2 separate regions of the Homo sapiens genome follow, and region 1 is linked to region 2. The links come from fine-mapping of genetic effects on plasma protein levels. Region 2 holds a variant in brackets. A gene starts in the other region. All regions are shown on their reverse strands.

Evidence for each region. PIP is the posterior inclusion probability: the model's chance that the variant is causal. The UK Biobank Pharma Proteomics Project read protein levels with antibody pairs (Olink). The fine-mapping took linkage between variants from a reference panel, not from the people measured, so its PIPs are less certain.
Region 1: it holds the start of TREML2, and the variant in region 2 is fine-mapped to the plasma level of the TREML2 protein (UK Biobank, PIP above 0.99).

What each region holds. Positions count from the first base shown.
Region 1 is chr6:41,196,598-41,205,124 of GRCh38, reverse strand. TREML2 (triggering receptor expressed on myeloid cells like 2) reads left to right here and starts at 3,976. Exons shown (of 5, transcript NM_024807.4): 1 at 3,976-4,171; 2 at 6,696-7,016. The coding sequence starts at 4,117. RefSeq lists an enhancer at 3,688-3,757.
Region 2 is chr11:126,392,183-126,400,182 of GRCh38, reverse strand. The region is part of intron 1 of ST3GAL4 (ST3 beta-galactoside alpha-2,3-sialyltransferase 4); the gene reads right to left. Among named protein-coding and RNA genes, the nearest start is that of ST3GAL4, 40 kb to the right of the region's middle. RefSeq lists an enhancer at 5,528-6,455. The variant T/C (reference allele first, on the strand shown) is at 4,237.

The DNA.
Region 1 (8,527 bases), not on the chromosome of region 2:
AGACAAACAACACAATTGAATAAATATTTTTCCAAGGGTATACAAATGAGCAAATTGTGCATGCTCAAGATGAAGATGCTCAATATCATTAGTCATTAGGTAACTACAATTCAAAACTTAAGTACATTCACTGGATGGCTGTAAACAGAAAGCCAATACAAGTATTGGAGAGATTGTAGAGAAATGAGAACTCATACATTGCTGGAGAGGGTGTAAAATTTGCAGCCACTTTGGAAAACTATTGGTAGTTCCTGAAAATGTTAAACATAGAGTTGCCATATGACCCAGTAGTTCTACTATTGGTTATGTACTCAAGAGAAATGAAAACGTATGTCCACACAAAAACTTGTACATGAATAGTCATAGTAACACTGCTTATAATAGTTGAACAGTGGAAACAAATAAAATATTTGTCAACTGATAAATGGTAAACATATATATCCATTCAGTGGAATATTATTCAGCCTTTAAAAGGAATGATGTATTAATACAACGTATAGCACAAGTACAGCTACAACATGGACAAACCTGGAAAACATGCCAAATGAAAGAATCCAGTCACAAGGAACACATATTGTTCAATTATGTTTTTATGACATATCCAGAATTGATAAAGGCATTTTTGATTGAAGATATTTTTGTCTAGAAAGACAAAAATATTAGTGGTTGCCTGGGACTGTAGGAATGGGGACTGTGGTAAGCTGATAAATGGTCTCTTAAAAGATATCTGTGTCCTAATCCCTGGAACCTGTGATTGTTACCCTTATATGGCAAAAAACAAAAAAAAAATGATCTTTGCTGATATGAGTGAGTTAAACATCTTGAGATGGTGAGATTATCCTGGATTACGTAGATGGGAACTAAATGCAATCACATGTATCCTTATGTAAGAGAGTCAGAGTGGGATTTGAACACAAAGAGGAGAAAGTGATGGGAAGATGGAGCAGAGGGAGACTGAAGATGCTGGCCTTGAAGATTGGAGTAAAACAGCCCCAAACCAAAGAATGCTGGCAGCTACCTGAAGCTGGAAAGGCAAGGAACAAATTTTTCCCTAGTGTCTCTGGAGAGACTGCAGCCCTGTCGACATCTTCATCTCAATACAGTGTGAACTGACTTCAGACTTCTGCCTTCAGAATGGCGAGACAATAACTTAATACTGTTTTAAGCCACCAAGTCTGCAGTAAACGGATCCAGGGAGTGCCTGCTAACGGGCATGGGGTTTCTTTGGGTGGGGAAATCCTGCAAAATTGGTGTTAGTTGTACAACTCAGTGAATATATTGAAAACCACTGAATTGTATGCTTTAGATGGGTCAGTTTTATATTATGTGAATTATAGCTCACAGAATTGTTGAAAAAAGTCATTGTGACCTTGGGTTAAGCAAAGATTTATTAGATATGACATAAAAATTGATTCATAAAAATTATATATTGGACTTCACCAGAATAAATCAACATAAAGTGCTTCACTTTTCCATTCTGGAAAGAGAGAAATGACAGGAAAAAACCCCACCAGATCAGTGTTTGTCTGGGACTGAAGGGATGACTAACAAGGAGCAGAGGAAAGCTTTTCGGGATGATGGCACTCTTCTCTGTCTCCATTACGGCATTGGATACAAGTCTCTAGAACTCCCAGAACTCGTCACTGAAAAGGGTGAATAGTACTGTATGTAAATTAGGCCTTAATTTTTAAATGGGAAAAATAAATATAAAGACAAAATACACTGCTGTATTAAATCAAATGATAGATGTAAAAGTCTAATGTATACGTATTTTTAATGATTTTGACCAATGCTTCCAAATTTCTCTTAAGAAAGATTGAATCCAGTGCATACTTCCTCGATCAGCGAATGAATGTTTGATTCTTTCTACCCTCATCAGCACAGTGATCCCAAGGGTCACACTTTAGACGATGATTGGCTCAGTGCTGGGCGCACTGTATCAGTTTCATAGAATCATGGATTCCAAGCGCATAAAGTCCCCACAAGAGATAAATCCCCCACTCCTGAAGCAACTTACTGTTCTGATGGGGGAAGGGATGGAGGAACTTACTGTGTGTGCTGGGGAGGGGAGATGGCCCCTGAACTCAGGGAGCTCAGGAAGTTCTGAGGACTGGGTGAGAAACATTGAAAAAGGAAGGGTGAATAAGGAAAACAAAACACGTCTGTGAGCTGAGAGGTCTCAAGTGACAATCGTGTCTCATTCCTACGCCCCCAGTGCCTACCTAGCCCCATGCATAGCAATGAGGTTGTGGGAATGAACAAATGAATGAATGAATTAATGAGTGAGTGAATGAGTTGAGAGACTACAAAAGCTTAGGGTCAGCCGAGATAGACTTCTTTGCTTGGAGCTTGGGGCTTCAAGGTCAATTTAAGATTGTGGCCATGCAAGCTTGAGGACTTTTTGCTCTGAGTCCTGTTAAAATTAATGAAAATGGAGACCAGGCCTGAAGAGTCCCTGAGCAAAAATTAAAAAAACAGTTAGGCCTCATAAGTGACCTCAACTTTGCTTGATTTGCAAATATCAGTGAAACTTAACACGAGCTATTTCTTGTAAATGTGTATATTAAGGAAAAATAGAACTTAAGCTCAACCAATCAAAAGAAACTTATATAATTAACTAGGGTCTTTCCAACAGGATAGGCCAAATAAGGGAACTATATAACTATAACTAATTAAATATTTTCTTCAGTTTACTTGTCCTGTAGGAGTCTTCCCCTTGCATTCCCCCAGTGGAGCTCCTCAACCTCTTCTGTTTGGAGCTGCCTGATTCATGAATTGTTGTTTGCTGAAATAATCTGTTTAAAATTTTATTGTGCCTCAGTTTACCTTTTGACAGTCCCATCTAAGGAGTAGAAACATGGCACTAGTGAGTAGGGGGAGCATACATAATCACGGGAGTCCAGCTGGGTCCCCACACACTGAAGGAGCAGATGACACAGGTACCGGACATCAAAAATTGATGCTTCTGATTCTAGGCCTTGGGGTAAGTGAAGGGTGTGGTCTTGGGCCTAGTGCTGGGTCATTTCCACTGGAGCTGGTGGCTGTACAGGCGAGATAGCATTGAGCAGGAGGAAGTGGAGGGCACTTGCCTGCGTGCTGACGTAGGCTGGAGGCAGGGGAGGAAGGGGGTCTTGAGATGAGGTGGGTGAGGGGAAGTACTGCGGAGGCTGTAGGAAGCCTGCACGAGGGACTAGGAGTCTAGAGGGAGCTGATGGTGAGTAGAGTCGACAGGAGGAGAGGCAGGGAGAGGGACAGAGAGAGGAGACGTATGGATAGGGAAAAGGAGAGGCTGCTGGGGTGTGTGTGAGACTGTGTGCATGGGCGTGTGTGTGTGTGTGTGAAAGTGAATAAAAGACAAAGTGAGACTGTGAGTGTGAGTGCATGTGCATGCACACCTGTGTGTGAGAGTACAGGAACCCCTCCCTCAACCCAAAATTTATGCCCTGAGTCTTAACAATTTGCATTTTTCCCGCTTGACAAAAGTAAGATTTCAAGTGAGCCTGTAAGAGGTTATTTGCAACAGTGAACACAAGTGACTGTTCTGAGCAGCCAGGAGCCTGGGAGAGAGAGAGAGGAAGGAACAGAAAGAATCTGCAATGAATGAATGAATGAGAGTTTATAAGAACTTCCCTGTGAATGTATATATGTAAGAAACTAGGGTCTGAGATGCTCCATCTCAGCCTAAGAGCCCGCACCCCTGGGTCTCTGAGCCCAGAAGATTCCAGGAAGGTCTATACCTGACGTTCCAGAAGCCTCACCCCAGCCCCCTTGCTGGATCCTAGGGACCAGTTTCTGGGGGAGGTTGGGGAGGGCGGGGAGCCCTCTGACTGTGAGTCCTCCCGGCTTGGGGCCCCAGACTGGGTGGAGCAGCCACACCTGCCTGAAGTTCCGAGGAAAAGGGCGGAAACAGCTGCCAGCACCGCCCTCATAATAGGCTCAATGAATCCCTGCGGTTGGCTGGGGGCAGTGGGTCCCACACTGCCTCACTTCCCTAAATGGGCAGCTTCACTTTTAGAACCCCGGGTCCTTCCCTGGCAGGCCCAGGTGGCACATCCTGTGTCGGGTGGGCCCTCACCTTGGATCTCCAGGCCTGACACTGCCCAGCTGGATGGAACCATGGCCCCAGCCTTCCTGCTGCTGCTGCTGCTGTGGCCACAGGGTTGCGTCTCAGGTGAGGGGAGAAGGGGCTGACTTGTGGAGGAGGGAGTGGGTACAGAGGCAGGAGCTCAGGGCCTTTTTCTTACCCTCCTTACCAGCAGTTTTCTTGTTTAGTGTTTTGTGGGTTGGGGAAGGAGGAGATTAGGGCTGACTTAGCTCTTTACCCTAATATCAGGCCCCAGGCGAAGCTAACCCAGGCCTCCCAAGCCAAGATAAAGCTCTGGACCCTCTCTGCATTGGCTCCTTTATCTGCTAGGCTTCCTCAGGCTTTAAAGCAGAGCCCTCAATTTCCTCACACAAATAGCTTTCTCTGCTTGGCCTCTGTCAGGAAGCCCTGCTTAGTTATGACAGCAATCATTGCATCATGTGTGTTTTGAACTGAATTTGAACATTTTTCTTGAAATGCTGATGCCACATCCTGTCCCTGCCTCTGTCCTGAAGGGACCAGTGTGTGAATGCCTTTCCCACCTCACAGATACCAATGCTCCTTGAGGAACCTCACCCATTCCTGCCCCTCTCGCTGCCATGGCAACCAAGTTACCACTTCCTGTTCAGTTCTGGGCATGGTGGGGGTTGGCAAAACTCACCACTGCCTGTGAGAGGGGTGGGAGGTGTAGGCACACATGAAGACATTGCCCTGGAGACCCATCCCAAGGTCACCCAACTCTGCACCTCCCAGAGGGTAGAGAAACAGCTTCCCACTGCCAGGGCAGAAAGGGGTCTCTCTTGTGCTAAGAAATCCTGGGCTCATCCACCAAATAATGAAGTTGGATCATTCTGTTTAGTTTGCAAGGGACAGAGGGATGCTTAGAGAGGGTGCTGCTTCACACAGAGCCTCAGCTCTAGTGGCTGCTGGCTGGGACTTGGGACGGATATCCTGGATTCTGGTGGGACAGATGTCCTGGATTCTGGGCCCTTGACTGTCACAGCTCTGGGTTCCATTGGGGGAACTGGGAGGCCCCAGCATGTGGGAAAAGGAAGCATGAGTTGAGCATGCACTGTGTGCAAAGCACTGACCTGGGGCAGAATTCTCACAGCAACCTGTGAGGGGTGTGGTGCTATTCTCACTTGACTGATAAAGAAACAGAGATATTTCTGTATCAGTCAAGTGTCTGTTTTGATATTTCTGTATCAAACAGGTGACCTAATCACACCACTAAGTGGTAGAAACAGGGTTTCAACCCTTGTTTATTTTGACTCCAAAATGTGTGCTCTCTGTTCTCTACTATGGGGGAGAGTCTTTTTATATGTGGTTTTTTTGGAAGACTCTGGGGTGAAATTATCAGAAGAGTCAGCTGAGCTTAAGGCAGGCAGAGGGGTGGAGGGAGCCCAAGGCAGCTTTCTCCCTCTCTCTGTCCCCTGAGTCACCCTGCACACCCCAGTTCTGCTCTGTCTCTACCAGACTGTGGATTATGAAGGCTTGGACCACATCTTACTCCTCAGCATAGAGAGAAAGATATTGCAGGTGGAAAGTGAATAATTGTAGAATCCTGTGGTTCACACTCCATTGGGAGTTTGTTTACATGTATATTTAGACAGGCTTGATCTATGGGTTTTATGTAACTAGAATATTTTAAAACTAAACACCAGATGGAATGAACTAAGGAGAGTTATTATTTAAAGAGGACTAAGTGAACCTATTTGTGAAATAAATAACTGTTAATCATATTTTCAAATACTAGATTTTCTTATCTACCTAGTTAGTTGGGCACTGAAATTTCACAACTTAATGACCTGTGTTTGTGTCTCTGCATCTGTCTCACTGAGGGCATGACCTGGGTTTTTCCCACAAGAATTCCCTGGGATGCCGGGCACAGTGGCTCACGCCTGCAATCCCAGCACTTTGGGAGGCCGAGGCAGGTGGATCACGAAGTCAAGAGATTGAGACCATCCTGGCTAACATGGTGAAATCCCGTCTCTACTAAAAATACAAAAAATTAGCCGGACGTGGTGGCAGGCACCTGTAGTCCCAGCTACTCAGGAGGCTGAGGCAGGAGAATAGTTTGAACCCAGGAGGCGGAGGTTACAGTGAGCTGAGATCGTGCCACTGCACTCCAGCCTGGGCAACAGAGCGAGACTCCGTCTCAAAAACAAAACAAAACAAAACAAAACAAAACAAAAATGAATTCCCTGGGAATCCCTGAAGACAGAGCTTGTCACTTTCCCATCAGACTAGAAAATACCATGAGGAAAGGGGCTGTGTCTGATGGAGCTCCGAGTGTAAATGCTGCGTTTCCTCCATTAGACTGGGGACTCACTGAGGGATATACCTGCCTCCTCCATCAGACTGAAAGCTCCCTGAGAGCGGGGGTTGTGTCTCCACTGTAATACTGGAAGCTAGCTGTTTTCAGGGCCCATTCACCTCCCTTCAGATTGGGGCAAGCTCCCTGAAGGCGGGGCTGTATTTCCCCCTCAATCTGTGGGTTCTGTGACAGCAGGACAATATCCACTCTACCCTTCACCATGATCTTCAACTTTCATGATGTCTTCTTCCTCTCCTCTTGCCAGACCTTATTCAATAAGTATTGTCTCCACAGGCCCCTCTGCTGACAGTGTATACACAAAAGTGAGGCTCCTTGAAGGGGAGACTCTGTCTGTGCAGTGCTCCTATAAGGGCTACAAAAACCGCGTGGAGGGCAAGGTTTGGTGCAAAATCAGGAAGAAGAAGTGTGAGCCTGGCTTTGCCCGAGTCTGGGTGAAAGGGCCCCGCTACTTGCTGCAGGACGATGCCCAGGCCAAGGTGGTCAACATCACCATGGTGGCCCTCAAGCTCCAGGACTCAGGCCGATACTGGTGCATGCGCAACACCTCTGGGATCCTGTACCCCTTGATGGGCTTCCAGCTGGATGTGTCTCCAGGTGAGCAGGCTGCAGTGGCTCTGGGACGGGTGGAGGGAGTCCCTCCTGCCCCACACTCCACTAACATCAGAGATAATAAGGATAATAATCCATCAGTGGTCATGTTGCACTGTAGTGTTTTCAGAGTGCCTTTATGGCACTATTCGTGGCACTATTGTCACCATTTTACAGATGAAGATAATGAGACCTGAAAACCCAGTGTGACTCTGAGCTTGTCCGGGGTCCCAGAGCTAGCAGGTGGCTGAGATAAGGTTCAAACTTGGCACTGTCTGTGCTGTGTTTTATTCACTCATTGCTTCAACATAATTCATTGAGCCCCTATTATGGGGCAGGCACTATTCTAGGCTCTAAGGAGACAGTGAGCAAAAACACTCACAATCCTGCACTATGGGAGATGACAGGCACACTTATTATCCAGACAAATAATTGCAGAAAACAAGAGGTGTTCATAAGAAACTAGGAACTGTTTCAAATAATTGCAAATAACTAGAGGTGTTCATGAACTAGTAAGCGACTCGGTGGTGGGGGAGCTACTGAAGTACTGGGGGTCAGAGAACACCTCCCTTAGCAGACAACACCAAGCAGAGCCCTGAATGGTGAGCATTTTCCAGCCCTGTTGAAATCTGGGTGCTTTGAAGAGCACTTTGTCGCAAGAGCTGAATATGCAAAGGTCCTGAGGTCAGAAGGAGCTTGGCTTGTATAAGGCTTATTTAGTCACTCTATATGGAGTGTGAGGCAATGAATGAGGAGGTTGGAGAGTCAAGCAGCCCTGAAGACCATAAGTTGGAATTTAGGTATAAGAGGAAGCTACTAGAGAGCTCAGAGAGCTGTCATGACTTGTTTTTAAGAATGTAGTGGCCACTTGTTGAGGATGGATTGTGAATGGTATGAACACGGGTAGAGAGGCCATTGTGGGCATCTGGCTGGAAACAACAGTGGCCTGGAGTACAATGTAGGCACTAGTGGCAGAGAGATGTGAATGGGCTCAAATCTATGTTTTTCAGACTTTCTGTTCAGCTCATATGTTTTGAAGGTAGGACAGGATTTGCTCAGTTGAGGGGTGAGCCAAAAGGAGGAATCATGGATGATCCAAGGTTTTCTATTTGATCAGCAGGTGGATGATGGTACCATTGATAGCGTAGGGTAAATCTGAAAGAGGAGCTAATTTGGAGGAGAAAAATCAAGAGCTCTCTTTTGTCATGTTAAGTTTAAGATACCTCCTAGAACCCCAAGTGGGGAAATGCAGCCAGCAGTGATATACCTGCCTGGAGCTAGGGTGAGAGGTCAGAGCTGGGGTATGTATTTGAAAGTATCTCTATAAAGATAGTGTTTAAAGTCCAGGGAATTAGAGAAATCTACAGACACAGAAAGTAGATTAGTGGTTGCTTAGGGCTGGGGGAAGGAAAAGGGGATACAGAATCATAGATAAACAGTAAGGGGTTTCTTTTGGAGATGATGAAGGTGTTCTGAAACTCACTGTGATGATGGTTGCATAACTTTGTAAGCATAAT
Region 2 (8,000 bases):
ACCATGAGCCAAATAAAATTCTATTCATTATAATATACTCAATCTGTGGTATTCTGTTACAGCAGCACAAAATGGACTAAGACAGAAAATTGGTGCCAAGAAGTGGAGAGGGGAGAGGAAAGCAGGGGAGGGGAGGGAAAGGAAGAAAAGAGAGAGAGAGCAGAGAGGAAAGAAGGAAGGGAGGGAGGGAGGCAGGCAGGCAATAAAGCGGGATTAGAAGATCTGTAGGGAAAGTCTGAAACTTCTTAGACTAAGTGGTTGTGATCAGAATGGTGGTAGAAATATCGATCGTGAAGGCCATTCTGATGAGGTCTCAGATATATCTGAAGATTAAGGTACTGGAAACTGGCATAACAGTCATCCTTGTTACAAAGCAGCAAAGAATGTGGCTACATTGTGTCCAGGTCCTCAAACTGTATAGCAGGCAGAACTTAAGAGTGATAAACTAGGCTATTTGGTGGAAGAAATACCTAAGCAGCAAAGCATTTTGGTTGCTGTATGACTTATTTTAACTGTATACTGTAAAACTTGAGAAGAAATAAATAATTTAAAGATGAAACTTATAAATAAAAGCAGGGTTGGGCGCAGTAGCTCACGTCTGTAATCCTAGCACTTTGGGAGGCTGAGGCGGGCGGATCATTTGAGGTCAGGAGTTCGAGACCAGCCTGGCTGACATGATGAAACCCCATCTCTACTAAAAATACAAAAAAATTAGCTGGGTGTGGTGGCACACACCTGAAATCCCAGCTATTAGGGAGGCTAAGGCAGGAGAATGGTTTGAACCCAGGAGACAGAAGTTGCAGTAAACTGAGATCGTGCCACTGAACTCCAGCCTGGGCAACAGAGTGAGACTCCATCTCAAAAAAAAAAAAAAAAAAAAAGAAGGAAAGAAAGAAAGAAATTTATAATGAAAAGCGAAACAGAACTTAGAGACTGGAAGGATTCTGAGACCGGCCCTGTAGTAGAGAATGAAAGAACTTTCAGGAGAGGAAAGCAAGGGTGCAGGCATGTTACCGTTTGATAGTTTAATAAGAATATTAGTATGGACCACTTGATAAGGAGATTAGTATTGGCCAGAGCCACAGTTTGATAAGGAGATTAGTACAATAAGAATGAAGCCAGAGGCTATTCATCAAGAAAATAAGAATGATCCCAAAGGTACTGCAGAGATGACCTGTGATCACAGCTCCGGCAGTGCCAAAATCTGAGGGAAGGAACTATGTCAAAAGCCAGGTCTTGGGAGCCCTCAGGACCTGTGGCTCACTGTCCAGGGCCACCTCAAGTCTCTGCTCCCACATTTGGGCACAGTGCTCCTCTGCCTCCCCAGCCATGGCTTAAATGGGCCCAGGTGCAGCTTGACCTACCATTCTAGAAGGTGCAAGTGGTGAGTCTTGGTGGCATCCCACATGGTCCTAATGCCACCAGAGTACAGAATGCAGGGGCTATGGGCCTGGCTCCCTCCAACTAGATTTCAAAGGATATTGCGGACAGACTCGGGACCCAGGCAGAGACTGGTTGCAGGGTCAGAGCCACCACCAGGGAGCCCCTGTAGGGCAATGCCCAGCAGAACTGTGGAGTCTGAGCTGCTGAGAGTCCCCAGGAAGCCTAGTGGAGCTGTGGGAGTAAGGCCATCCTGACACCCCAGAACTGCAGAGCTACCAGTGTGCAACAGCAACCTGGGGGAGCTGCAAGCATGAGACTCCAACCGGTGAGAGCTGCTGCATGGAATGAGCCCAGCAAGGCCAGGGAAGCAGGGCTGCCGGAGGCCTTGGGGGCCCAAGTCCCTACCCGAGTGTGTCTGGAAGGCAGGACATGGAGTCAAAGAAGATTATTGTCAAGTTGGGATTTGGTATTGTTCCCCCTGCTGGGTTCTGGAGTTGTCTGGACCAGTTGCCCCTTTCTTCTTGCCTATCTCTCCCTTTTGGAATGGAATATCTGTCCTATGCCTGTCCCATCACTGTACTTTGGAAGCAGACAACTTGCTTGATTTCACAGCCCATGACTGGAGGGGAATTTGATTCAGGATGAACCATACCTTGAGTTTTACCCACAGCTGACTTAGATGAGACTGTGGACTTTGGACTTTTAATGTGGTGCTGAAACAAATAAGAATTTGGGATTATAGGTAAGAAGCAAATGTATTCTACATGTGACAAGGACATCCATTTTGGGGACTGGGGCAGAATGCTATGGTTTGAATGTGTCCCTCAAAGTTCATGTGCTAGAAACTTGATCCTAAATGTTAACAATGTTGTGAGGTGGGGTCTCATAAGAGTAGGCCATGAGGGCTCTGTTCTCATGAATGGGTCAAGGGCTCTGTTCTCATGAATGGGTTTAATGCCATTATTACAGGAGTGGGTTCCTTATAAAAGGACAATTAGGCCCCTTCCTGCTCTCTCTCTCCACCTTGCCCTTCTTCCATCCACCATGAGACAATGCAGCAAGAAGACCCTCACCGGATGTGTCCTCTAGATCTTGGACATCCGAGCCTCCAGAACTGTGAGCCAAATAAACTTCTGCTCCTTATAAATTACCTACTTGGTGGTAATGGCAGCACAAAACAGACTAAGATAACATCCTAACCCTCCACATCCCGCTCGCTGGGACCATCCCACTCTGGTAATATCGGGCTGAAATGGTTCCTCTCCTACGAAGGCTTGACTTATACTTCCAAATGACTGATGTTTTGGTTCCCATGAGACGTTGTTTATACCTTAATTTCAGCACTTAGAGGTAACAAAATTTTATATTATACAAGGTTTTCATGTCTTGCCCACTATCCCATGACCTCTGAGATTGGAGACATTTTTATACCAAGAGCCCACCAGAGTTAAGTGTACTATAGAATATGCTTTATGGTACAATGTAACTTTGTGTTATATCATTCTGTGCTTTCCTAGCTTGCCTAAATGACCTCTGTGGTCAGGAACTTCTTTGTATCTCCAGATTCTATTAAACTGCCAAGAATGTAGCAGATGTTTTACAAACATCTGACAAATAAGTAATAACATGTGAATAAAGATGTATTGCATGTTCCACTAACAACTGAAATGTACTGCACGCTCAAAACGCGAAACCAGGATCTCTCAATCTCTGCACCACTGACTTGGAGGGGCCAGAGAGTTCACTGTTGCGGGGTCTGTCTTGTGTATTATGGGGTGTTTAGCAGCCATCTCTGGCCTCTACCTACTAGACACCAGTAGGAAATCCCTCTTCTCAGGTGTGACAAAGTGTTTCCAGACATTTCCAAATGCTGAGGACCACTGTGCTAGACACTTCTAAGGGCTGTGAAAGTGTTAAATATGATCTCGACCCTGTGAGTTCAACACGATAATTACCTCCATTGTAGAGCCAGGGAACTAAGGTGGGAAAGGGGTCAGTAACCGGCCCAGGTTGTACAGCTCGTGAGGAGTGGAGCTGGCACTGGAATTCTGGCTCCTTCAGCCAGAACCTCCACATCCTACGGCTTCTAAAACCATCCCGTGCAGACTGGCTCCCTAGACTCCACGATCCCCGGGATGTCCACCCCTGCCCTACACAGCAATTAGGGGAAGGGGTCTCAAGCACATCCAAGTCCTTCGAAGGCTCCGCACAGTGACGAAGAGCCTGTCGAGCCCCTTCTCAGCCACGCTTCCGCACGAGACACAGTCTCTAGCCCCCACAGCCCTGGTGCTCTCTGGAAGCTCTGCAGTACGTGTTCAAGGCACACAGCTGTATTCATGGGACCACTAATGCCTGCCAGCTGGACACCAGACTTCCATGAATCCGACCATTTTTTGCAGCCACATCCCACCACTGGCATGGACTGACTCTCTCCGCTGTAGGCCAGGTCTCCCGGGCTGCGGACTCCTCTGGCTTCCCTGCCGAACCTCAGCGCGGGCCTGGGCTGTACCTGCTTCCACACATTCCACAGCCTGTCCAGGAGTCAGTCTCCACAGTGTCTGCCAACCCACAGCGATTCCTCTCGGCTTAGTGTCCGCTGCCCACGTTCTAGAGGGGACTCAAGCTGGACTGTGCATTTGACGTCATTAATACAACTGCCAGGTACAGTGAGCGCAGGCTACGGGCTGGGGAGTTCTCCCACAGGGTTAGAATCCACCCGATCAACACTCGGATACAGACGGTCCGCTAATTGCAAGTGCCAAGAACAGACCGGTCATCTGTAAAACTCCTCCTCAGCCCCAAAACCCCATGGACTCTTCTCACTCACGGGGAGAGCCCGGGTCCTTGCTCTGA[T/C]GCACAGAGACACATGTGCTCTACTGGCCAGCACCTCCTCCCTCCTTGCCAACTCCTCCCAACACAGGCTGCCTGCGTTAGTCTGTTTTCGTGCTGCTGATAAAGACATGCACGAGACTGGGAAATTAATAAAGAAAAAGAAGTTTAATGGACTCACAGTTCCACGTGGCTGGGGAGGCCTGACAATCATGGCAGAAGAAAAAAAGTATATCTTACATGGCAGCAGGCAAGAAAGAAGGACAGCCACGTGAAAAGGGAAACCCCTCATAAAACCATCGGCTCACCTGACACTTACTACCAGGAGAACAACTTGGGGGAGAACACCACCATGATTCAATTATCTCCCACCAGGTCTCTCCCATGACACATGGGAATTATGGGAGCTACAATTCAATATGAGATTTGGGTGGGGACACAGCCAAACCGTATCACTGCCCAACCCACACCAGCCTCACCAGGTCTAGGGGGCTAGCTAGGCATGCTCCCTCCTCTGGGCCTTTGCGATTTATGCTCACTCAGTCTAGAATGCTTTTCTGTAGACATGGGCCTGGCTATCTCTCTCCGTCCAGCTCTTTACTCAGCTTCTCTACTTCCCAGCAACAACTCCACACACCCAACACTGCAGGCCCCCTCCCCTGCTTGCAAAGATGTTTCTCTTGTTTTGCTTGCTGCTGTATCACCCATGTTGACAATAGTGCCCGGCACCCAGCAGGCTCTCAATACAAACGTGTTGAATTAATAAATGGATCTGTTCATCAGATGGCATTGCCCCAGTGCAGGTGGAACAGAGTGGAAGAGGCAGTGACAGTAGGTCAGATATCTTCTGGCCCCTGTGGCACAGCCCCTGGCTGGACGCTGTAGCCTCACCCCATCATTGAACACTGTGATCACAGCACGCCTGGGCACGGGGAGGCTTCCTGGCTCATTAGAGTTGGCAGAGAGCACAGTGAGTAACTGACCAGCTAACTGCCTCAGGGTCATGCATGGGAGGATGGAAACATCTCTCAAGCTGTCTGACCTTAGAGGGAAAGGAGCCAGACAGGCTTCCACCTACAGCAAAAGAAGACTCTCTGTTCCCACCCTCGGGCTCCACAGGCTACCCACCCACCCCCCACCATCCGCCCCTGCAGCCTGGCACTGCAGACTCCTGTACAGAAACATTGTATCACCCGTTTATCAGCTGCCAGTCACAAGACACCAACCACTTGAAAATCATACCCAGGGCAGGGCCCCGTGCCTCATGCCAGTAATCCCAGCACTTTGAGAGGCCGAGGAGGGCAGATTGCTTGAGCTCAGGAGTTCAAGAACAGCCTGGGCATCATGGTGAAACCCCATCTCTATAAAAAATACAAAAATTAGCCGGGCATGGTGGCATGTGCTTGTAATCCCAATTACTTCAGAGGCTGAGGTGGGAGGATCACTTGAGCCCGGGAGGTGGAGGCTGCAGTGAGCTGAGATCAGGCTACTACACTCCAGACCAAGTCAGATCCTGTCTCAAACAAAAAGAAAAGAAAAAAGAAAATCATATCCTGGTGCCTGCCTGAGAGGGGCAGAGGCTTTGAATTCCCTTCTCAGGGTGAAAAAGCTGAAGCCACTGTGACGAGGTGGGAGTCAAGAGAGCAGGGCCAGGCCCAGGATACAGGAGAAATCCAGGGCCTGTGTGGACCTGCCCCAGGTCCTGGTCAGGGGCTCCCGGGCGCTCCTCCCTCCCAGGAGAAGCAATGCACCCACCCCAAGGATCTAAAGCCAAAGGTACCAGTGTCTGGGGCTGGAATCTGGCTTCCCACCAGCACAGCCAATCCCCTGCTTCCAGCACAGCCAGTGCCCTGCCTCCCCTGACCCCAGATGCCTGCTGTGAGAATGGTGGACTGCACCAGCCCCACCACATCCCACTTGGTCACCCCAGTCCCAGGCCACTGAGTATTTGCAATGGGGCCAGTCCACACTGACATGTGCTTTAAGTGGAAAATACACACCGGATTTCAAAGATTTAGTACCCCAAAAAAAGAATAAAATATCACCTTCATTATTTTATGCTCATCCCATGTTGAAATGCCAAGATTTTGGCTATATTGGGTTAAAATATTAAAACGAATTTCACCTATTTTTACTTTTTAAAACCGTGGCTAAATTTAAATGTTTTAAAAGTAATTTAAAATTACATGTGGCTTGTATTTCTGGCTCCCATTCTATTTTGACCGGACACTGTTGGGCTAGAAAATCTCCAGGATTCCTGCTAGCTCACACTTCCTATGACCTGAAGACGGTGGTGTCCACCCTCAAGTGCCTACTGGAAGCACCAGGAGAGTTTATTAAGCTTCATCGGCTCCCAAGGCTCCACTTCAGAAAGGCTAAATTAGGAGGGCTGAGATGCCTGTGGAGGGGTCCCGCTTATTCTGACTCGTTTGACTCTGATGTGCAGTCAAAGCACATCAAAGTCAAAAAGACCTCACTCTCCCCGTCCCCATCCCCCTCCTCCTGAGCCATCTGGGCCCTGGGTATGGAAACACATTCAAGGTGACATTGCTCCCCCGGCCCACACAATCACCTCTACTCTGCCTAAACCCAACCTCTTCTGGACCCCCTGATATCCTGCCCCAGTGCCTGCAAGGGGCGGGCCACCCAGCTACCCACCTCACATACCTTGCCAGCCCACGCAGTTGGGCAGCCATGTTTGAGTTAGCAAGCAGGTCAGATGAAACTGGTTCACCTGAGCCTTCTCTCCTCTGGCCAAGACCTGTGCCCTAGGCACTGGCTACCGAGACTAAACCCTGTCTCTGCTACTTGCAAGGCATGTGACTGCAGACTCTGCCCCGTCTCTATAAAAATAAAAATAAAATTAGCCGGGTGTGGTGGCACACACCTGTAGTCCTAGATACTTGGGAGGCTGAGACAGGAGGACCCCCTGAGTCCAGGAGATCGAGGCTGCAGTAAGCTATGATCGTCCCCCTGCACTCTAGCCTGTCTCAAAAAAAAAAAAAAAAAAGAACAGGAGTTGGTCGTGTTACAAATGTTGAGAGATCTGGAATCAGTGGTTGGGACCCAAGCCCAGACCTCTCTTCCGGCCTCCTCTCCTCCCAGCCACAGTTTCCTCCCTGCATGGGGTTCAGACCACCCAGTCCAGAGAAGCTTCCTCACTCCCCCACATCCAGCTCTGTCACATCATGCTGCTTTATTAACTTTGTGGCAGTTAAACCACACTGTCCCAAGTACCAATTAGACCACGCACTCCCAGCAAGCAGGGACTTCTTATGTCCCATAGTATCTCCAGCACTAAATTTAATGCCTGACACATGGTAGATAACTGACAAATATTTAAATGAATGGAGGTCTGAATTCATCAGCAAACAATAAGATGACTGTGAGCAGCAAGTTGCATCAAGTTAAAACAAGCCAGGCTTATTCTGAAAAGACCTGGGCATCTAAGGCACAAGGGGCTTGCTAGAAGCTCACACTGGGAGCTGGCAGAGCCAGCGCACTTTCTGCCAAATGCATGTCGATGAGCTCACAAGGACCTGCTTTATCCCCAGGCAAATGAAGTGGCTTCTGCAGAACTGGAGGTTGTCATGTCCGACTGATCTTAACCACTTACCAGCTCCATGTCTGCTGCACCATATCAGAACTGATGTCCGACAGTAAACTCTGTGCAGTCCCAGGAGAGCTGCAGGCTTGAGGACACCCTAATACCCAGGAAATCTCCTTCCTTCCTACTTACTTCCTCCTAACGGGGGTCAACCTGAGATGAAACCCCAGGACCAAGCCCC